Linked DNA regions of Homo sapiens. The protein of the gene in region 6 purifies or fractionates together with the protein of the main gene of each other region. This does not show direct contact. Each region holds a gene or a part of one and is shown on either strand. Other genes may lie near its edges. The genes, in order: KHDRBS2, PFKFB3, DAZAP1, STK38, ETFB and CAPG.

Region 1 (3,500 bases), on a different chromosome or scaffold from region 6:
CCAATCTGTTTCAAAGTTATTAAATTCTAATACCTCAGAACATACAGATAACATTTAAATCAAGCTATACTGTCTTCTGTTTCTGATCAAACGTAAAATTTGCTCACTTCTAAATGTTAAACAAAACCCTGACTGCCTCAAGACCCAAGAGAGGGCCTACAGTTGTTCTTTGCTTCTAGAAGAATTCAGCAAATGTAAGCAGTTCTCTAAAAAATGTGGGGAAAAAAATGCCTCAGCAAACCACACAAAATTATCCAATCACTTTTTGGGTCCAAAGAAGTCTGAAATGTTCCCTCTGCTCTGCCACCACATCACTAAGCTCTCTAAGAAGCAGTCAATGTAAGTCATTCAGAAAATGTAGTAGGCTGTCTTGATGATCCTTAATTCAATTCTATACTAAGGTAAATTCCCCCATTCATAAATTTATTTGACTTTTATAAGCTATACTTATATTTTATGATATCATATAATAATTCATCCAATATTTGTATTCAGAAACATATTTTAGAAGTTAATGGCAACAACAACATTGATCTTCTAGATAAAATGTGCATACTAATAGCTGACATTCTTTCAAAGCCTAACATTGGGTCTCTATCACAGGAGACAATGTGGTGTAATGGTTACACGTGGCATCTAGGTGAAAAGGCCTGGGTTTCAACTTTACAATTTCTTTGCTGTGAGACCTGATATAAATTAATTTATCTAAGCCTTAATTTGTTTAATTTGTAAAACTAATGCTAATAACTACACAATAAGGTTGGTGGGTAGATTACTTGTGGTAATGCATCGTCTAGTACAGTGTCTGGCAAAGAGTAAACTCAATAAATGTTGAGATGATGATAATGGTAATAATGATAAATCTCTCATTACCATAAACAACAGAAGTTATGACTTTCTCTGAATTCCTATATCAGTGGTCTCTAAAATTTCTGTAAAATCTATCAGACCTTCCATATACTTATTTATATCATATATGTATATATATAAATATCTGTCTATATATGTAGTTGAATCCCCTATAGATTATAAACCCCATAAATTAAACATTTGATACTTCATTTATTAATAGCACATATCATATGCAGTTTTTTGGGTTTTTCTGTTGTTTTTGTTTTGTTTTGTTTTGTTTTTGAGACGGAGTCTTGCTCTGTCACCCAAGCTGGAGTGCAGTGGCGTGATCTCGGCTCACTGCAACCTCCACCTCCCGGGTTCACACCATTCTCCTGCCTCAGCCTCCCGAGTAGCTGGGACTACAGGCGCCCGCCACCACGCCTGGCTAATTTTTTTGTATTTTTAGTAGAGATGGGGTTTCACCGTGTTAGGCAGGATGGCCTCGATCTCCTGACCTTGTGATCCACCTGCCTCGGCCTCCCAAAGTGCTGGGATTACAAGCGTGAGCCACTGTGCCCGGCCCATATGCAGTTTTTAACAACACACATTCAAGGGCATATGTGATTGTGTAGTCAAATGCAGTAGAGTACTAGTCTGATGGAATTAATCCTCCAAACTATAACTAAAATATAAGGTAAATAGCCTAATGCTTTTATGATTGTTTATTATCTCTCTATACTGCAAAATCTTTTTGGAAGTACTGTTATGAGTCAAATGGAGGATGTGCTAAAAATGACTTCTTTCCTCCAAAAAAGTTAATAACAATGGAGCAAGAGGATGCTTGGCCATGACCTCACAAGTATTTGGCAAATAAAAGATGCAATCACTACAGAACTCTGCACTTGAGAAGATGAGGAAGCCATATAATATGGATATTTGCTAACATTAATGTAGAATATCATCTATTAGTGGTTATTCCACCTCTAAAAAAATTTCCAAATTCAGTTTATTTTATTGGAATTCAGCAGTTTGTGGGGAATAGTACCAAATTTTGATCTATGAAATATATTAAATATTACACGGTTTATAGCTTTAAAAAATCAAACTGATGCCAGAATATAATTCCAATGAAGATATATTTCTCATAATATAGCCAAACCAAAAAGAAAGATCAAATTCAGTGCTCAAATAAGTGCAAAAGGAAAGCTGATGATACTACACAGTTATTTCCAGGGGTTTCTAAAAACTACCTCCAAACCTCACTTCCTCCCCTTGTACAGCTGCTGTGGGAACAAACAGCTTCACTATAGACTGTATACATAAAGAGAAACTGAGAATAATGATCAGTTATGTTCCCATTCTCAGGTACCAGGCCATAAAAAAACCTTAAAATCAGATAAATATAGAGAATACTACTGTGTCCATTATCTAGATGAATTTATCGTGGTCATGCTCATTCCTATATAACTAGTCAATGAAATATTAATATTAATGTACAAGGCCTAATAGTCAATCAAAAGAAAATTTCATAAAAATATAAATTAAAACACATAAATGAATGCGGATGGGACATTACAGATAAACATAAGAAGACTTTCTTTTCTAGAAAGTGGAAAAAAGGAGGCCAATTGTCTCAGTACCACAAGATTCGGGAATGACATTTCAATGGTTTTCTTAGATTTTCTTTGTGCCGCGTATGTGCCAGACTGAGTGCTAGAAAAGCCAGCAACTCAGAAGTATTAAAGGCAGACACGGCCAGGCGTGGTGGCTCACGTCTGTAATCCCAGCACTTTGGGAGGCCGAGGTGGGCGGATCACGAGGTCAGGAGATTGAGACCATCCTGGTTAACACGGTGAAACCCCGTCTCTACTAAAAATACAAAAAATTAGCCAGGCGTGGTGGCGGGTGCCTGTAGTCCCAGCTACTCAGGAGGCTGAGACAGGAGAATGGCCTGAACCCGGGAGGCGGAGCTTGCAGTGAGCTGAGATTGTGCCACTGCACTCCAGCCTGGGTGACAGAGCCAGACTCCATCTCAAAAAATAAATAAATAAATAAATAAAAATAAATAAAAAGCAGACACACACAAAGCCTCAATCCAAACAACAAAGAAACAAATGGGCAGATTCTCAGATACCTCACAGAGTAAAGAAGGACTTCCCTGTACTATCTTTCCAACTTCCTGCATATGAATAATTTTTCAAAATTGACTTAAAAACAAATGGAAACTTTCAAAGTGGCCTCCTGAGGTTTTGAATTATGCAAAGATAAAATATGACTGAATTAGTATTATCATTGTAAGTGACAGAATTACTGAAAAATTGTTTCTGGAGATATCTTCTAAACACATGGTAGGAGAAAAAGGAAGATATGAGGTCAGCATCATTCAGTTAAGAAACATTTATTGAGGCCTTCTACATATAAGACTGAAGGCAAGCATTAAAAATTCAAAGACAGAAGTCATAGTATGGCCCTCAAGCTTAGAGGGGGAGACAACCAAGATCAAAAAGAATTGCATGTTGCAATGTAGTAGTGGTGGATAGGTTGAAAATAAAACCAGAAGTGCACTTAATTTATAATGAATTAGATGAGAAGCCATTATGAAAGGCTTACTAGAAGAAGGAATAGCAGTACTCAGTTTTATTGGATGAAGATAAATTATAATCATG
Region 2 (3,500 bases), on a different chromosome or scaffold from region 6:
TTGGGAAAAAGTCACTCCCAAACAATTTAGGTCTGTCTAGGGATTCAGCTGCACTGGACTGGACATGCTAAGACTTAACATTTCAATGGGATTGTCAGAGTTTTCCGGGCTGTTTGTTCCTTAGAGGGCACTGAAGAGAAGTGCAGCCCCCACCCCAAGCCAAGACCCTGGGATGTGTGGAGCCAGGGGCGGGTCTCAGGGAGCTGTTTATGAAGCAATGAAGTCCCCGGCATCAACCTGGGCTCCACAGCATTTCCCAAGGGCTTCAAGGAAGCGCTGGACAGAGAGGACCTGAAGCAGCCGGGAGCCGACACCTGTGCCCTTCTCCTAACACCCCATGGCACAGCAGCCAACACAGGGCAGGCCACGGCAGGTCTGCGGCTGACCCCCCGCCGAGTGCCAGTCCCCTCCTCCCTCCATCCCGGGGCCACGACCTGCCCGAGGTACCTGCACTCTTATCCAGGAAGTAGGCAAGCAGGCAGCGCAGGACGGCCTGGTGGCAGATGACCAGCACATTCTCCTGCCGCTCCAGCTCCATGATCACTGGCTCCAAGCGCTGGACCAGGTCCTGGTAGGACTGAGCACAGAGGGCCGGGCCCACGTGAGCTCAGGGCACTCGGGAGGGGCTCTGCCGCTGGCCACAGACTGCATCAGACCGGCCAGAGAGCCACGCAAAATCAATCATCCATCATCAGCAGTGGTTGAGAAGGAGCAGGGTTTAACGTGGACTATTGCTCAGCCACAAAAAGAGTGAAGCCCTCCCCACTCCGCTCCCACACGGGGGAACCTGGAAAACTCAATGCTGTGTGAAAGAACTGGGCGCAAAAGGCACGTGTGGCATCTGACTCCACTGACATGGAATGCCCAGAATAGGCAGATCCAGATGCAGGAAGCAGACGGGCCGGTGCCGGGGCTGGGCCGGGCAGGCGGGAGCGGCTCCTAACAGGTCTGGGTTTCTTTGTGCAGTGAGGGAAAGGCCTGGAATTTGTGGTGATGGCTGCACAGCACTGTGAGTACACTAACATGCACTAAATCATAACTTTAACGTGATGAAAGTGGTCAATTTTAGGTTATGTGTATTTTCTATCAATTTAAAAATGTAAAAAGAAGCAGGAGGGCTGTGACTTTAGAAAAAGACCAGAAAAGCTCCTGCTCCTGTGGGCTCTCTGCTGTGCTAACCAGGGCCCCGGTGTGTAAGGCTTAGTCTGAGGCCAGAGGACAGTGGGCCTGCAGGGGCCTGAGGCACGACACTGCTCAGCAGGGCACGGGCAGGGAGGACACACCAGGCCCAGGAGGATCCCATCGGCAGAGGAGGCAACAGCGTCCTCAGCCACAGCCACCCGGGCACCGTGCACGGGGAAGCACAGACGCTGCCCAGGGGATATAGAGCCACCCCTCCTGCCAGCCTGCCCACCACCCTGCCCAGTGGACCTTCACACACCACCTTCCTCCTCTCCCATATAGTTCTATGTCCCTAGGGAAACACATCTCACTTCTGCTTATGGGAAAATGCACTTCACCCCAGGCTGTTAGAAGGTTCAGTTTGGGGGGACTCAGTTCCAAGGTGGAGGGTGTAGGAGCCCCCAGAACCCACACGGAAGTGAACTCCCTGGAGGGGTGGCCCAGCCCTGCACAGCAGTGGTCATGTGTGCTGGGGACCGTCAGCCCGCCCCAGCCTGCGCTCACCTCCCCGGTGGGGTAGCGGTAATAGTACTTGTCCTGCTCCCGCAGCGCATACTCCTCAGGGTAGGTGTCCCTGATCTCCTCGTAGGTCAGCTCCTCACAGACGCCCTGCGGGGACCCAGTGGTCACTCAGGGGAACAAACCACAGGGGTGTCTAGGGCCTCTTGGGAAGCCGCCCCATGCCCGAGGGTGAGGCTGCCTGCCCGCCTCCCAGGACTCACCGCGTCGATCTCATTGAGCGCCTTCCACTGCTCGTAGGGCAGCCGCAGCGCCTCGGCCGTCTGGATGGTGCTCTTCAGCTGGCTGGTCCACACGCGCAGGTCCTTCAGGTTCTGCTCCTCCACGAACTTGCTCAGAGCACTGGCAAACTGAGAGGTGGTGGAGGGGGACCACTGATTCCAGATGCCCGCAGCTCCTCCAAGAGCCAGGGCTGGAGCAGGCAGCCCACGTAGGGCTGTGCACTACCTGGTTACACCGTGGGGGCCCCAGGCCACTGGGACAGCCACAGCCGCACACACCCTACCCAGAGACCAGGCTCAGCTCTTCCTGCCCCTTCCCTTCCTAGTGCACAACCGCGCACACATCACACACATGCACAGAGATACACACACCAGAGACACACATACAAACACATACAAAGTAACACAAAGACACACACACACAAAGCCACATGGATAGGCGTAGACACACACACACACAGAGCCATACAGAGATGCACACAGATATGCATAGAGACGTGCAGGCGCACACACAGATAACACACACAGCAAGCACACCAAGCAGCAGCAGCAGCAGCAGCAGCAGCACACAGCTCCCCACCCACCCTATAGACCCTGCAACCGCCCTACAGCCAGAACGGCCCATGCGGCAGCACACCCCGCACCTTCTTGCCCCGGCTGGACAGGCCTGAGTCGCCCCCGATGCGGCCCTGGAGGTTGTGCTCGTTCTCGCCGTGCCGGCACAGGTAGATGGTACGCGGCTGCACGTGGATGTTCATCAGGTAGTACACGATGCGGCTCTGGATGTGGTCCTGCACCCGGTTCACCAGGAACCTCCGGCCCACGTCAATCACCTTGATCAGCGACAAGTCCCTGCAGAGAGACCCCACCGAGAACCACAGCTCAGGCCACCACCCACAGCAGGATGCACCTGGCCCGTCTCCGAAGATGTGATCCCCAGAGAACAGCAAGGCGGGACCGTAGGCCCCTCCAGGGCACAGACTGAATCCTTCTAAGGGGCAGAGCATATGCGTAAGACAACTCCCACAGCTGGTGTCTGGCTGTGAGGCTGGCCTGCCTCCCAGAAAAGGGGGAGAAAAAAGAAAGAAAATGGAGAAAAAAAGAAAGGGGCCTGTGCAGTGGCTCATGCCTGTAATCCCAGCACTTTGGGAGGCCGAGGCAAGAGGATTGCTTGAGTCTAGAAGTTCAAGACCAGCCTGGGCAACATAGCAAGACCTCATCTCTACTAAAGAAAAAAAAAATTAGCTGGGCGTGGACACCCACACCTGTAGTCCCAGTTACTCATGAGGCTGAGGCGGTAGGATTACTTGAGCCCAGAAGTTTGAACCTGCAGTGAGCTATGATCATGCCACTGCACTCTAGCCTGGGAGACAAAGGGAGACCCTGTCTCTAAGCAAGCAGGCAAGCAAGTAAGTAAGTAAATAAATAAATAAATAAATGGAAAGAAAGGAAAGAAAAAAGAAAGGAACTATCGGAGGGACAGTAGCAAAATCAGGCTCAACTCTATGTTGACTTCCTGTACTTCTACACAGTGTTCAAAATATTCCCACTGAATATGATTTGTCATCAAGGATTGTT
Region 3 (4,132 bases), on a different chromosome or scaffold from region 6:
TCTGTTGCCCAGGTTGGTGTGCAGTGGCGCGATCTCGGCTCACTGCAACCTCTACTTCCTGCCTTCAAGCATTTCTCCGGCCTTAGCTTCCCGAGTAGCTGGGATTACAGGCGCCCACCACCACGCCCGGCTAATTTTCTTTTGTATTTTTAGTAGAGACGGGGTTTCACTATATATGTTGGCTAGGCTGGTCTCGATCTCCTGACCTAAATTGATCCTCGGCCTCCCAAAGTGTTGGGATTATAGGCGTGCGCCACCTCACCCGGCCTTGTTCCTTGTATTTATTTAATTCTGTGATGATGAATAAACCAAACGATCAGGCTGTCAATGTGCTGTGAGATTAAGGAGAAAAGCAGTAGGCAGCACGTACCCGGTTTTACAAAACCCTGCGGGTCACCTGTTTACTACCGTCAGCCTAGACCGGTTTTTCCACCTCCTTCTGCTGACATTGGAGGACGGGTATCATTCTTTTTGGGGGGTCGTCGTGTGCACTGCAGGGTGCTGAGCGGCATGTCTGGTCTGGACCCACTCGATGCCAGCAGCACCCCGCACTCAAGTTGTGACAACCAAAACCGTGTTTTCAGACATTGCCAAGTTATCCCCTAGGGGGCAAAGTCACCCAGAAGAAGAACCACTGATGTATGCAATTAACAGATGCAACTAAAACAGTATTTGGCTATTAATAGTAATAGCACTTGGGGGGGGGGTCAATAATATCTTTTCATAGTCATTGAATTTAGTTAATTGTTTTGATTTGATTCCAGTTCAGCCCCGAACTGGGTGACCTTGGCCAAGTGACTCAGCCTCTCGGACCCTCGGGATCCTCTTCTGTGAAATGCGGACAGGGGAAGGAGCCTCGCGCGGGACGCTCACGTGCCGTTCCCGCTCCGTCCGCCCGCCTGGGGTGCGGGCGGGTACACTCCCACTCCCCGCAGCGCCCCACGCGGCTCCACCGCTTCCGAGTGAAGAGTTAAAGAGGAAGCGGCAGCCGCGCCTGCGCCCACAGTGCCTAGCCCGGAGCGCCGGTCTCGCAAGCGCGCACGCGCACGCAAGCCCGCACGCGCGCGCACGCACGCACGTGGCTCGGCCCGCGCGCATCCTCCCCTTGCAGGGGCGGGGCCAGCGCAGGGACTCCATTTCCCAGCGTGCCCCGCGGCAACGCCAGGAGCCTCCGAGGAGAAAGGAAAACGCGCGACGGCCCCGACTGCGGCGGCGCGAAATCCGCCTCAGGGACGCACGCACAGACGGAGTACCCCTGGACCCGCCCCCGGAGACCCCGTGCGGGAGCGCGCCCGGGCGTGCGCAGGGGCGGCGGCGCGGCGGCGCGGGGACGCGCGGTGACCGTTGGCGCCGAGGGGAGGAGGCAGCCGCCGCCGCCGCCGCCGCCGCCGCCGCCGCCGCCGCCGCCGTTGCGCAGATCCGGGCCGCGGCTGTGGGGAGGGCGACGGAGCGGGTGACCTTCCGGAGGCGGGAGCGAGCGAGGAGGCCCGGGAGCGCCGAGCGTCGCCGCCGCCGCCGCCATGAACAACTCGGGCGCCGACGAGATCGGGTGAGGACGAGCGGCGCGGGCCTGCGTCTCCGCCCCGAGCCCGGCCCGCCGCTCCCCGCCGCCCGGCCTCAGACGCCGCCCCCCGGGGCCGCCCCGTCAAGGTCACGCCGGCCGGGGGCGGACTCGGGACCCGGACTCGCCGCGGCTTCGCGCCGGGGGCCCTGGACGGGTGCCCGGGGTCTGGGGGGGTCCTGGCGCCCCCGCCGCCGCTTCCCGGCTTCCCGTCCTGGGGGATCCTGAAGGAGAGCCTGAGGGGTCCGGGGGGCCCCGCCGCCGCCTCCAGACTTCCTGGTCGGGGGAACCCCGAACGGCAACCTGGGGGGGTGTCCTGGGGCGCCCGTGCCGCCGCTTCCCGACTGCGCGTCCTGAGGGACCCCGAATGGGAGCCAGAGGGGTTCAGGGGCCCCCGCCGCCGCTTCCTGGTTGTGGCGGCCCCGAACGGGAACTTGGGGGGGTCTGGAGCGTCCCCGTTGCCGCCTGTAGGGCTTCCTGGCCTGGGGGACCCCGAATGAGAACCTGAGGGAGTCTGCGGGGAGTCCAGGGCGCCGTCGCCGCCGCCTCCCGGCTTCCTGGCCAGGGGGACCCCAAACTGTGGCGTGGGGGGTGGTCCGGGGCGCCCCCAGCGCGCGCCCAAACTTGGCGGGCGGCGCACGTGGCGAGCCGAGGCGAGGGTTCCGGTTCTGCCACCGCCCAACCTATCCCACTCGGGGCTCCGGGCTCCCCGCTCCCATCCCACCCCCCCAAAGTGGTAAGGTCGGGAGGGGTTCGCAAACCCAGGGCCCAGGGGGCTCGGGTCAGCCGGGGCCTGCTGTGTTTACGTTGCCTCGGCGCCTCCCCGCCGGGGGTGGGCTTGAGCTGCGGAAGGGAGAGTCAGCGCTTCCGAGGCGGCGACGGGCCCGCGGATCTTTGCTGCGCCGAGGCGTCCCCTCCTATAGGAGCCTGACCTGCTCCGGACCCCGCGGGGCCGGGAAACCTCATTTCGCTGTGCCCCAGGGCTCGGCGCCATTCTTTGGTAGGAGCGGCTCCTGCCGCAGCGACGTCGTTTTAGAGTTGCATTCTTCCGGCAAAACAGTCTGGGTTGGGTTTCCTAGTGGTCTGGTGTAAATTTCTCGGTGCCCTTAGCTTTGAGCAGCGCCCTGTGTTCTCAGCGCTGGGCTTGGCTAGTGCGGGAGCGGTTGCTGCTAGAGGGTTGCCTTGGCAGGCGCCTCTCGCACCAGCTACAGGTCACACTTGTGGATGGGAAATGCCTTTTGTGGGCTCTCCCCCTCCCCAGACAAAACAAAAGAGCACCTTCCGTTGGAGAACCAGGATGAAAGCACTTAGCCCCTGCCTAGCCCGTGCTGTGAGTCCTCTCCAGGCACTTTGACTTGGCAGGGTCCGTGTGCCTGTGTGAGGGACATTGCAGGGATGGGCCTGAGCAGGGAGTCCACCGGCCATGGGGGATGGAGCCATCGACTTTGGGGTGAGGCAGGGAAAGGGCTCCCAGATGGGGTACCTGGATTAGGTCCATTCAAGCCGCGGGTGAACGTGGGCCCGCTCCACCCAAGCCGTGGCTGTGAGGAGGCTGGAGAGAGGTGAGGGCTCCTGTCCCCTCCCTGCATGGACACCCTTGGGAAGTGGGGCAGCTGGGGTCCCAGCCTGGGTCTGGAGGGGTCCCACCCACAGCACAAATAGGCTCGCAGGCCACCCGGACGCCACGGGCTGCGTGGAGGAGAACTGGAGTGCATGGACCCTGCTCTCCTCCCCGGCTGCCAGGAGTGTCCACTGCTTTCTAAGTCAGACTCCTTGGGCAAGAAGTGTTGCCACAGCCGCCCGTCGCATGGGAGACCGGCTTCCATTCTATGCGGAGTCCACGGTCTGCTCTGATCTTGCTGTGTGGAGTTGTTGTGTGCGTGAAATGCTTGTGACCCTGCGAAGCGCCCTCCTGGCAAGTCCCCTGCAGGTGCGGTGGGTGCCATGCAGGAGGGTGCTGAGCTTGGATGGAAGCAGGCCCTCTCTGCGGCAGATGGCGGCTCTCAGGACGCCATGGGTCTGCGGTGTCCCTTACCCACTGGGGGGGCTCGGCAGCCTGAGGAGCTCCCTCTTCCTGATGCAGAGCCCTCACTGCTCACTGCCATGGAGGAGGCAGGAGATCCCGCCGGACCCCGCTTGGAGGGCTGGGCCTGGAGCATGCATGGGTGCGGGGTCAACGCCTCAGGAGACTTGGAGCTTGGGAGCCCCCTGTTCTGGGACACTTGTGGCCGTCCAGCTGCTGCCCTGGGAATCCACACCTGGAAGGTGGGTTAGGGAGCCATCCTTGGGGGAAGCTCTGCTTTTGAGTCTGAGAAGTCGTCCCAAGTTTTGAGGGTCCCTGTGCTGGCTTAGAAGTCCATGTAAAGCTTGATGGGGGATGAAAGTCAGCTGAGGCCTGCCGGTGATAACGGATGCCTTACACACACCGACTTCCAGTCAGCTTGAGGGGGGCTTCATGCAGGAGGAAGCGCATACGTGTGGTGGGGTGTGGGGAGTCCCTCTCTGGATCCTGGTGGGTTTGGCACGCGGACCCTACATGGTGGATGTGATGGACAGTGTCCTCCTTTGGGA
Region 4 (3,500 bases), on a different chromosome or scaffold from region 6:
ATTTCATTTAGAACATTATGTTTTGTATTATTGGAGAAAAGTAGCTATTTTTCCCTCAGGCAAAAATTAAACCATTTATTAAAGTGCTCTTTTTCAGTCCAATACTTAAAAAATATGATTTCCTAATCACTCCTGGCAGCCCTTCAATCTGGAGACCCACCAGACACATGGAGACAGTGCACTTGGGCTGCTACCCCAGTAAGGTAGCTATACGGCCTTAGTTCTGTGGCTCAGGAGAGCAGTCAATGGGGCCTCGCCTGTGCAAGTTTGCCCAGATGATTGGAGAGCTCAGGCCAGATGCTCTATGGCTCTGCAGGCCAGCTCCACCAAGTGCAAAGGGCAGGGTCCAGGAGACATGAGAAGCTACGGAAGATGGTACAGGTTGAGGCTTGAGGACACGTTAGGAGCTGGTAACCAAGTTGGCTCTTACTCTTATTTAAGAACTAGCATCTAAATGTTAAAAAAGTTTCTCCTCATTCTACCAGACTCTTTTCTAACATTAATCAACTGTTTATTTTTTATTAAATGTGTTTCTTTATTAAAAAGTATTGATGACCCTAAATCTAAGGGTTGTCACAAAATCAAAATATTATGCCACAATTATAGGAACAAAAAAGAAAAAAGTTCTCTCTCTTTTTTTTTCCCACCAGAGTTTGCTCAGAGTTCATCTGCTCACTGACAAACAGACTGCTTTCCTCAGAACAGATGGCATGTTCTGTTCTGGGTTTACTTTGGAGCTGTCTTAGGAGATGCTCATGCTGAGTTACATAAAACTTAAAATTTCAGAAATGAGAAATTTTTTCTGGCTACTAATATGGGTAACAAAAAATTCACTCCTTATTAATATGTTATACAAAAAGAAACAAAAATTTGGAGCAAAGGATGTTATAGCTTCAATGTTGTCACTTGGGTTATTGATCATATATGATTCCCATTGACAGGAGAGCAGGCAGAGCACCCTAATTTATTCCTATATATTTTAAAAAGAAGAAGAAAAGAAAGAAATGTCCATCTGAAATCATGTAAATGAATTAACAGGTTACTTTTATGGTACTAAGATTGTAGAAAGGCACCCCAGCACAAGACAGGTTACTGACTTCCTTTATAGACCTAAAAAAGGATATAGAAAGCAACTTTGTGAGCACATTTAAAAGTAGAAAGGAGGGTTAATCGTGATGTGAGAGAAAGAAACCACAGAACAAAAAGAAAAAATGACCTTTCATCGTCAAGTAATTACCTCCAGGCAGGAACTCCATGATTAGGTAGAGGTTTAGCTTATCCTGAAAACTATAGAACATTTTCACAACCCACAAACTGTCTGCCTCCACTAGAATGTCACGCTCCGCACGAATGTGGCCAACCTGGAGGTATATGCATTTGATTAATGACAAAGCTTGCTCTGCTTTATTAGATTGTATATTTGCTTAAACAATTTAAATACTGTGCTTAAATACTGTTTTGAGTATTTAATCGTGATGATATAAAAGATCCAATTTCTGCTTAGGCAAACCTACTAACTCAAAATTGACAACATTTGACTTCAAGGTATTCAGTGATGAAAACTTGAGTGATGAAAGGCTTTAAAAAATGGCAAAATGAATGGCTTTAATGCAAATAGCAACTTTAACACTGCTATAAACTGAATCTCTGATTAGTTAAAATTACTACTCTTTTGCATAGAGTTTTGTCTAATAATCTTTTATGATAAAAATAAGTCCCCAAAGTGAGACTCTCTTCCAAGTTCTTCCTCGGGTCTGCACTAGTATCTGCAACAACAGTGAGCTCACTGACAAATTCTAGAATGCTATGATACCACAGCATTTAGTTCACTGCTATGTGCTCAATCAATCCTTACTGAATTGAAATACAAGAACACCTATGAAAAGTTGTAGATTCAAATTAATGACATTTCCAATTTTATACTTTTACTGAAATACCTATAAAGGACCAAGTTGTAGAAAGTTTCAGAGAACCGGAATTATTTTGTTAAAGCAATGCTTTATTATCAAATTTACCTTATTTACTTTAAATGCAGAACAGTAATCAAACATCACTGCATATTATCAAATCCCCCCCACACACACTTTTTTTAAAACAAGATGGGGTCTCGCTCTGTCACTCCGGCTAGAGTGCAGTGGCGTGATCATAGCTCACTGAAGCCTCAAACTCCTGGTCTAAAGTGATCCTCCTGCCTCAGCCTCCTAAGTAGCTAGGATTATAGGTGTGTGCCACCATGCCTGGCCCCTCCCCTCTTTTTTAAGTGTCACAAGGTCTAAATTGGGTTGATTCAGATCTAAATTTATTAAGACTCAGTCCAATCCCTGAATAGTGGTTTTGGTCTTAACATATGCTACAGGTCTTGACTTTTTACAACATGTTCTGAAGTAAAACATGTACCAAGGTTCACAAATTGGCAAATTTAGTCCATGGCTGTTGGCAAATTTAGTCCATGGCTGTTGTTTGGTTTAATACAATGTTTGATATGATGCTTGTTTTATTGACATGTCTTTAGGGAGACAAGGCACTCTTCCATTACTCTTCCATTTCAACACCCTCTCCCCTGGTCTTATATCTAACTTGCTTCAGGCTTCTATGCTAACTCTTGGAGGCCCAGAGGCATTTGACTTTATGTATTTGAGTTTTCAGTATCTACTAAAATCATTCTTTGGGGAATTTTTTTAAAAGCTGCAACTGTACAGAAAACCTACATCTTTACATCTGTACTTATGGTATTGGGGTGGGAAAAAATGGACAATAAGGGTGAAAAGAAACAGTGCTATGAAACACAATGAAACCAAGTAAAGCATCTGCCTTTACTTGACCTTAATACAGAAGCAAAGCTTTTGGGAAACAGTAACATTGCTTGCTGCCCCACAGCCATGGCTAGGACCCAGTCACTACAAGACATTAATACAGTAGAAGGCAGCCTTCATCTGCCTGTCTCCCCTGGCTCCCATTAAGCTCCCTACCTACTGCAGGGAGCCAGAGAAAAGGAGAGGCACTACAATTACCACTTGTCACTCACCCTGGAGGACACAATGGTGCCCATAACATTTCCTGTTTGTCAAGGGGAAAGCTACCATGAGCACACCTTGCCTTTCTCTTGAGGCTGAAACAGTAGCAAGAAACCTCATGGTTTGAAAGTGGAGTTGGCTGAATATAGATTAAGGGAGGGAAGAGTCTGAGGTGCAATTTATACAAAAAGGTTCTCTTTCCCCTATTCCATAAATATTTAATAAGGTGGGGGGTGCTAGTTGCTATCCTGTGCCCTAAGAAAGCAGAAATAAAAGCCAGTTTTTTGTCCCATCAATAACTGTATACTGGCATCACAACTGAAGGTTTTCCTTTTGCACTGGAAGAGAAACATCAGAAGCTAGTTAGATGTCATGTCTTACCCTTTAAATTTTTCCAGGTAGCAAAAATTTCCACCACGTGGAGCAGAAAAATAACCTGAACTCTCAGTGGGTAGCTTTAATTCCTACCCAGTTTATTTAGTAAAA
Region 5 (3,500 bases), on a different chromosome or scaffold from region 6:
CTCTGACATTTTCTACCCTTTTTCGGAAAAATGCCAGCCCTCTGCCTGGATGTCATGATCACACATGGTCACAACCTAATTTGGAAAACACCAGCATGAAAGACCTCTTTGCTAAACAGACAAGGGAGGTAAGGGAGGTGGGTGGCAAACCCCACCCATTTGCTTCTGCACATCATTTTTGTCTCTCCTGGGCCCCACTGTGTGCCTGGCTCTGAGCTGGATCCTGGGGACACCATCATGTGCCAGGGAGAGAGGCTTCCGGTGTAGACCAGGGTGTAGCGTGAACCACTAACCACTCTCCTATTAGTTTCTCTCGGCTGCCGTAACAAATCACCATATATTTGGTGGCTTAGAATCTTACAGCTCTGGAGGCCAGAAGTCCAAAGTCAGTGTCACCAGGGTGAGACCAAGGGGTCTGCAGGCCCCGGGAGGAACACGTTTCTTGCCTCCTCCAGCTTCTGCTGACACTCCCTGGCTTGTGGCTGCATCGCTTTATCTTCAATGCCAGCATCCTCAGCTCTGTCTTCACGTGGCCTTCTCCTCTCTCTGCGTGTCTAGTCTCCCTCTGTCTCTCTCTTATAAGGACTCTTGAGATGGCATTCAGGGCCCACCTAAATAATCCAGGATAATGCCCCCATCTCAAGATGCTTAATTTAATCACATCTGCAAAGACCCTGTTTCTAATTTCTTTTTTTTTTTTTTTTAGATGGGCTCTCGCTCTGTCGCCCAGGCTGGAGTACAGTGGTGAAATCTCGGCTCACTGCAACCTCTGCCTCCCGGGTTCAAGCAATTTGCCTGCCTCAGCCTCCCAAGTAGCTGGGATTACAGGCATGCATCACCACGCCTGGCTAATTTTTGTATTTTTAGTAGAGACAGGGTTTCACCATGTTGGCCAGGCTGGTCTTGAACTCCTGACCTCAGGTGATCTGCTCTCCTCGGCCTCCCAAAGTGCTGGGATTACAGGCATAAGCCAACATGGCCAGCCTGCAAAGACCCTGTTTCTAAGTGATTTCCCCTTCTCAGGTGCCAGGGATTGAAACCTGGCTGTTTTGGAGGGCTATTTTATTTCTTGGCCCACCACAATCCTTTTTTTCTTTCTTTCTTTTTTTTTTTTTTTTTGAGATGGAGTCTTGCTCTGTTGTCCAGGATGGAGAGCAGTGGCATGATCTCAGCTCATTGCAACCTCTGCCTCCCCAGTTCAAGCGATTCTCCTGCCTCAGCCTCCTGAGTAGCTGTGATTACAGGTGCCCACCACCACGCCCAGCTAATTTTTTGTATTTTTAATAGAGACAGGGTTTCACTATGTTGGCCAGGCTGGTCTCGAACTCCCGATCTCTGGTGATCCACCCACCTCGGCCTCTCAAAGGCAGGGGATTACAGGCGTGAGCCACCGCTCCTGGCCCAACCTGAGTTTTTATAAGGTCATTCTGGATTCTTGGTGGAGAAAATTGGAAAAGGATGAGAGGAAGTGGGGAGAGAGCTGGGTGGCTGTTTGTCACCAAAGTGAGAGGTGACAGTGGCTCAGACAGCTGTGACAGCAGAGACAGATGCAAGAGGTTTCTGGAGGTGCAACTGACAGGCCATGGTTCGTGATGGGAAGATGACACCAAAAAGGGGCTTCCAGTCAGTACATCAGCCAGAGCCGGGAAGACGGCGAGTTTGGTTTGGGGCACAAATTTTTAAAAAGCCTCCAGGGACATCCACAGAAGCCTTGCTAGGGAGCTGCCCCATTTGGCCTGGAGCCTGCCCTCTTCCTCTTCTCCCATGTGGCCGCCACCCAGGGCTTGGCCAGAGCAGATCTCGGGTGGCAGCTGAGCCTGGTGAGGACACTGGGATGCTCTTGCTATTTCCCTGCCCCTTTTTCTCTGGGGCTGTGGGTGTAACTGTTCCTCCCACAGGCAGGACAGAATCCGAGATGAGAAGGTGGGACCCATAAGGGGCTTCCCACTCTGGCTGTGCCTCATGGAGAGGGTAACATTAAAAGATGGAGGACTGAGACCGGGCGCAGTGGCTCCTGTCTGTAATCCCAGAAATTTGGGAGGCCAAGGTGGGAGGATCACTTGTGCCCAGGAGTTGGATACTAGCCTGGGCAACAGGTTCTACAAACAACAACAACAAAAACAAAAACAGCTGGGCGTGGTGGCTCATGCCTGTAATCCCAGCACTTTGGGAGGCCAAGGTGGGCGGATCACCTGAGGTCAAGAGTTCAAGACCAGCCTGGCCAACATGGCAAAACCCCATCTCTACTAAAAATAAAAATAAAATAAAAAATTAGCCGGGCATGGTAGTGCACGCCTGTAATTGCAGCTACTCAGAGGCTGGGGCAGGGAGAATTGCTTGAACCCAGGAGGTGGAGGTTGTAATGAGCCAAGATTGCGCCACGGCACTCCAGCCTGGGCGACAGAGCAAGACTCCGCCTCAAAACAAACAAACAAACAACAACAAAAAAAAAAAAAAAAAAACAGCCAGGTATGGTGGCACACACCTGTAGTCCCAGCTACTCAGGAGGCTGAGGCGGGAGGATCACCTGAGCCCAGGAGGTCAAGGGTGCAGTGAGCCGTGATCATGCCACTACATGTAACCTGGGTGACAGAGCAAGACCTCATCTCAAAAAAGAAAAAGAAAAAGAAAAAGGAGAAAGAGGAGAAGGAGCTGGAAGAGGAGAGGAAAGAGAAAGAACTGTTATTTTCATCTCTCTCGTTGCCCAGGCTGGAGTGCAGAGGTGCCACCTTGCCTTACTGCAACCTCCACCTCCCGGGCTCAGGTGATCCTCCCACTTCAGCCTCCCCAGTAGCTGGGACCACAGGCGGGCACCATCATGCCGGGCTAATTTTTTTTTTTTTACTTTTTGTAGAGAAAGGATTTCCCCGTGTTTCCCAGGCTGGTCTGGAACTCCTGGCCTAAAGTGATCCGCCTGCTTCAGCCTACCAAAGTGATGGGATTACAGGTGTGAGTCGCAGTGCCTGGCCTTTTTTCTTAAAAAAAAAAACACAACATAGGAGTTGCCCCTTTAAGACAGAAAAGAACCTCATCCACCCATCAGTAAGAGGCCCCAAGCTTCTTGCTGTGAGTCAGGGAGGCTTCTGAAGGGCCTCAAGCCACATCTTGCTCTTGCTCTGGCAGAACTCCCAGCCCTAAGCTCCTGATTCCCAGGCTCCTGACTCCTGAGGAGAAAGGGTAAGAACTTTCCAGACACACACACACACACGCACGCACACACACCTGAGGAAACAAACTAGCTCATCTTCTCAATTAAGCTTGAGTTGATTTTAAGCTTCAAAAACAGTTTAGTTATATTACATAAGTCAGGAAACAATGGTAGGGCTGAAAAATGATAGCTTGTTTGTTTTTTAAATAATGATGGCTCATGCCTGTAATCCCAGCACCTTAGGAGACTGAGGAAGGAGGATCACTGGAGCCCAGGATTTCAAGACCAGCCTGGGCAACATAGAGAGACTTCATCTCTACCAAAAAACAAAATTAGCAGGTCATGGTGGCGT
Region 6 (3,500 bases):
ACAGAGTGAGACTCCATCTCAAAAAAAAAAAAAAAAAAAAAAAATTAACAAAATTTTAGCAAATGAAATCAAATAATATATAAAAAATAAACCATGATGACCAAATGAGGTTTATCCCAGGAATGCAAGGTTGGTTTAATATCTGAAAATCAGGGTGATGATAGCTAATAATAATGCAGTGTATATTTCAAGATAGCCAGAAGAGAGGATTTGAATGTTATCATCACAAAGAAATGATAAATGTTTAAAGTGATGGATATGCTAATTACCTTGATTTGATCATTATACAATATATACACATACATTGCATATGTACAATGAAACATCACACTGCTCCTGCTAAGTATGTGCAATTATTATCTGTCAATTATAAATTTAAAATAAATAAATAAAGCCGCTCACAACGCAAAAAAAAAAAAAACAGGCCAAAATTTGAAAATCAATGCTATACACCCTATTAACAAACATGTATGTGTAATCACCTCAATAGATGCAGAAACAGCATTTAGCAAAATTCTACATTCATTCCTAGTTTAAAATTTTTTCAAGCCTGGGCAATATAAGGAGACCACAACCCTACAAAAATTTTAAAAATCAGCCAAGGCCAGGTGCAGTGGCTCACACCTGTAATTCCAGCACTTTGGGAGGCCGAGGTGGGTGGATCACGAGGTCAGGAGTTCGAGACCAGCCTGGCCAACATGGTGAAACCCTGTCTCTACTAAAATACAAAAATTAGCTGGGCATGGTGGCATGCGTCTGTAATCCCAGCTACTTGGGAGGCTGAGGCAGGAGAATTGCTTGAACCCAGGAGGCAGAGGTTGCAGTGAGCTGAGATTGTGCCACTGCACTCCAGCCTGGGTGACAGAGCAAGACTCTGTCTCAAAAAAATAAAATAAAATAAAATAAATAAAAATCAGCCAAATGTGGTAGTGCAAGCCTGTAATTCCAGATCCCAGCTACTCAGGAGGCTGAGGAGTGAGTATCGCTTGAGCCCAGGAGATAGAGGCTGCAGTAAGCCAAGATCATGCCACTGAACTGCAACCTGGATGACAGAGTAAAACCCCCTCTCAAAAAAAAAAAAAAAATTTTTTTTTTACCCACAAACTAGGAATAGAAAGAAATTTCCTTAACCTGTTAAAAAGGCATCTATTAAAATACAACAAACAAACAAAAACCCTTCACCTAACATTATATTTAATGGCTGCTCTAATTCTAAACTCCCTCCCTGAGAAATTTCACCCACTCCCAGGCATCAGCTATCAATTCTGTATGCCCAGCTTCCCTCAAATGCCAGAATGATGAACACTTTTTCTGGACAAAAGTCATTCAAGGGAAAAAATGCTAAACGCAAGTATTTTTTAAAAAGATATTATCTTTTTAAAAAATTCAGAAAATGCAACAGCTACGGCTCCACTCACTGTCGCTTTCATAGGTTCCCATCACTAGAGGATTTCTTTTTTTGGCTCAAAATGCAGAGATCACAGAGCCAGCATGCACTTCGTACATAATACAATTCATGCTGTGCATCCATTTGGACAGAGTTTGTGTAAGATGAGCCCCAGTGGCACAGGGTAAGGGCTTGGGGAATTGGAGGGTAAAAATGCAAGCTGGCACCATTAGGAGATTCTTGGGGGCTGGGGCAGCAGGATCAGGAAGTGCAATATTTCGCAGGGGCCAGGGAAGTCAGGGGTAGGGGGAAGGCAGATGACAGAGCAGAAGGTATTAAGTCTGAGTAGGAAACAAAGAGGGACAGGTCAAGGGCAGTGATAATGGATGTGAAATGCTGTGTGAATTATGACTTTCCTTTTCCTTTCCCAACCTACAAAATAGTGGAAGGCATATTTTGGCACCACGATTCCGGAAGAGGACATGCAGAGAGCAGAGGTTTGCGGAGGGAAACTTTAACGTTTCTCCATCCCACAGAGGATCACATGCTGTGCCCACATCCCCTGCAACAGGCAGCCCAGCCTGTGACTCAGGCCTGAGCTGGTGAAGTGGCTGCCCCAAGCTCAAGCCATCAGGGAGCGCTCAAGAATGAGACACGGAGTGCGCCAATTGTCACCTTTACTATTTTTCATTCTGTGTTTAACTCAAAATCAGGCAGCCTACATGCCAGAGAGCCACATCAGGGTTTGGATGAAAGGGGTTTGGCAGGCCGGGTGCGGTGGCTCACGCCTGTAATCCTAGCACTTTGGGAGGCCGTGGTGAGCAGTTCACTTGAGGTCAGGAGTTCGAAACCAGCCTGGCCAACATGGTGAAACCCCGTCTCTACTAAAAGCACAAAAATTATCCGGAAATCACTTGAACCTGGGAGGCGGAGGTTGCAGTGAGCCAAGATCCATGCCACTGCACTCCAGCCTGGGCAATGGAGTGAGACTCGGTTTCAAAAAAAAAAAAAGAAAAGAAAGGAGTTTGGCTGCTCATTAGAATGACCTTGGGACCTTATTAAAATGTCGGTACTGACAAAGATTCTTTGCTTGGCCAAACTTTAACTAGGCTTCTGAACCACCCCGTAGGCCCATCTGTGTGCTTGTAAAATCCGGTTTTAGCAAAAGAACCCTGCTAAGGCCATTTACCTAGAACCCCCTACCCTTGATATCTGGTCGATCTGATAATCGTGGATATCTGATTGGGTTCCTCAACACCCTGCCCCCGCCGCCCCAGTGATGTCTGATCACTCTGGCCTGTATTCAGCAAGAATCCTGTTAGGGGCCGGGCACAGTGGCTCATGCCTGTAATCCCAGCACTTTGGGAGGCCAAGGCGGGCAGATCACCTGAGGTCGGGAGTTCGAGACCAGCCTGACCAACATGGAGAAACCCCATCTCTACTAAAAATACAAAATTAGCTGGGCTTCGTGGCTCATGCCTGTAATCCCAGCTATTCGGGAGGCTGAGGCAGGAGAATCACTTGAACCCGGAAGGCAGAGGTTGCAGTGAGCTGAGATCATGCCATTGCACTCCAACCTGGGCAACAAGAGCGAAACTCCGTCTCAAAAAAAAAAAGGAATCCTGTTAGCTCAGTCTAGCCAGAATCTCTTTACCCTTGATGTTTCCTCTTAGTAATTTTCTTTTTTTTTTTTTTGAGACAGAGTTTCACTCTGCTGCCCAGGCTGGAGCGCAGTGGCACAGTCTCAGCTCATTGCAACCTCTGCCTCCTGAGTTGAAGCAATTCTCCTGCCTCAGCCTCCTGTGTAGTGGGATTAGAGGCGTGCACCACCACATCTGGCTAATTTTTTGTACTTTTAGTAGAGGTGAGGTTTCACCATGTCAGTCAGGCTGGTCTTGAACTCCTGACCTCCAGTGATTGCCCACCTTGGCTTCCCAAAGTGCTAGGATTACAGGCGTGAGGCACTGCGCCTGGGCCATATTTTTTTTCTTTAACAGTGCCCAAGCCCCTGGTCTGGGGATTCTGATTCCACAGGTCTGGAATGGGGCTTGATCACCCATATTTTGAACATATGTTCAAAGTGATGGTAGTAGTGCCAGTGAATTCTGTCCAG

The links.
Region 1: the proteins of CAPG (region 6) and KHDRBS2 purify together in Homo sapiens (affinity purification with mass spectrometry; 2 studies listed by BioGRID and IntAct, with this or other methods). This does not show direct contact.
Region 2: the proteins of CAPG (region 6) and PFKFB3 purify together in Homo sapiens (affinity purification with mass spectrometry, with the first as the bait; one large-scale study listed by BioGRID). This does not show direct contact.
Region 3: the proteins of CAPG (region 6) and DAZAP1 fractionate together in Homo sapiens (co-fractionation; one large-scale study listed by BioGRID). This does not show direct contact.
Region 4: the proteins of CAPG (region 6) and STK38 purify together in Homo sapiens (affinity purification with western blotting; one study listed by BioGRID). This does not show direct contact.
Region 5: the proteins of CAPG (region 6) and ETFB fractionate together in Homo sapiens (co-fractionation; one large-scale study listed by BioGRID). This does not show direct contact.

The regions. Positions count from the first base shown.
Region 1 is NC_000006.12:62,276,226-62,279,725, forward strand, and holds part of KHDRBS2 (KH domain-containing, RNA-binding, signal transduction-associated protein 2), read right to left. Parts: intron 1-3,500. UniProt on the Homo sapiens protein: RNA-binding protein that plays a role in the regulation of alternative splicing and influences mRNA splice site selection and exon inclusion. Binds both poly(A) and poly(U) homopolymers. Phosphorylation by PTK6 inhibits its RNA-binding ability.
Region 2 is NC_000010.11:6,219,932-6,223,431, reverse strand, and holds part of PFKFB3 (6-phosphofructo-2-kinase/fructose-2,6-bisphosphatase 3), read right to left. Parts: intron 2,775-3,500; coding exon 2,567-2,774; intron 2,052-2,566; coding exon 1,905-2,051; intron 1,792-1,904; coding exon 1,687-1,791; intron 578-1,686; coding exon 448-577; intron 1-447. UniProt on the Homo sapiens protein: Catalyzes both the synthesis and degradation of fructose 2,6-bisphosphate.
Region 3 is NC_000019.10:1,406,254-1,410,385, forward strand, and holds the start of DAZAP1 (DAZ-associated protein 1), read left to right. Parts: upstream 1-1,332; 5' UTR 1,333-1,520; coding exon 1,521-1,549; intron 1,550-1,631; exon of another isoform or gene 1,632-3,368; coding exon of another isoform or gene 3,369-3,826; intron 3,827-4,132. UniProt on the Homo sapiens protein: RNA-binding protein, which may be required during spermatogenesis.
Region 4 is NC_000006.12:36,516,480-36,519,979, forward strand, and holds part of STK38 (serine/threonine-protein kinase 38), read right to left. Parts: intron 1,362-3,500; coding exon 1,238-1,361; intron 1-1,237. UniProt on the Homo sapiens protein: Serine/threonine-protein kinase that acts as a negative regulator of MAP3K1/2 signaling. Converts MAP3K2 from its phosphorylated form to its non-phosphorylated form and inhibits autophosphorylation of MAP3K2.
Region 5 is NC_000019.10:51,356,389-51,359,888, forward strand, and holds part of ETFB (electron transfer flavoprotein subunit beta), read right to left. Parts: intron 1-3,500. UniProt on the Homo sapiens protein: Heterodimeric electron transfer flavoprotein that accepts electrons from several mitochondrial dehydrogenases, including acyl-CoA dehydrogenases, glutaryl-CoA and sarcosine dehydrogenase.
Region 6 is NC_000002.12:85,403,867-85,407,366, forward strand, and holds part of CAPG (macrophage-capping protein), read right to left. Parts: intron 1-3,500. UniProt on the Homo sapiens protein: Calcium-sensitive protein which reversibly blocks the barbed ends of actin filaments but does not sever preformed actin filaments. May play an important role in macrophage function.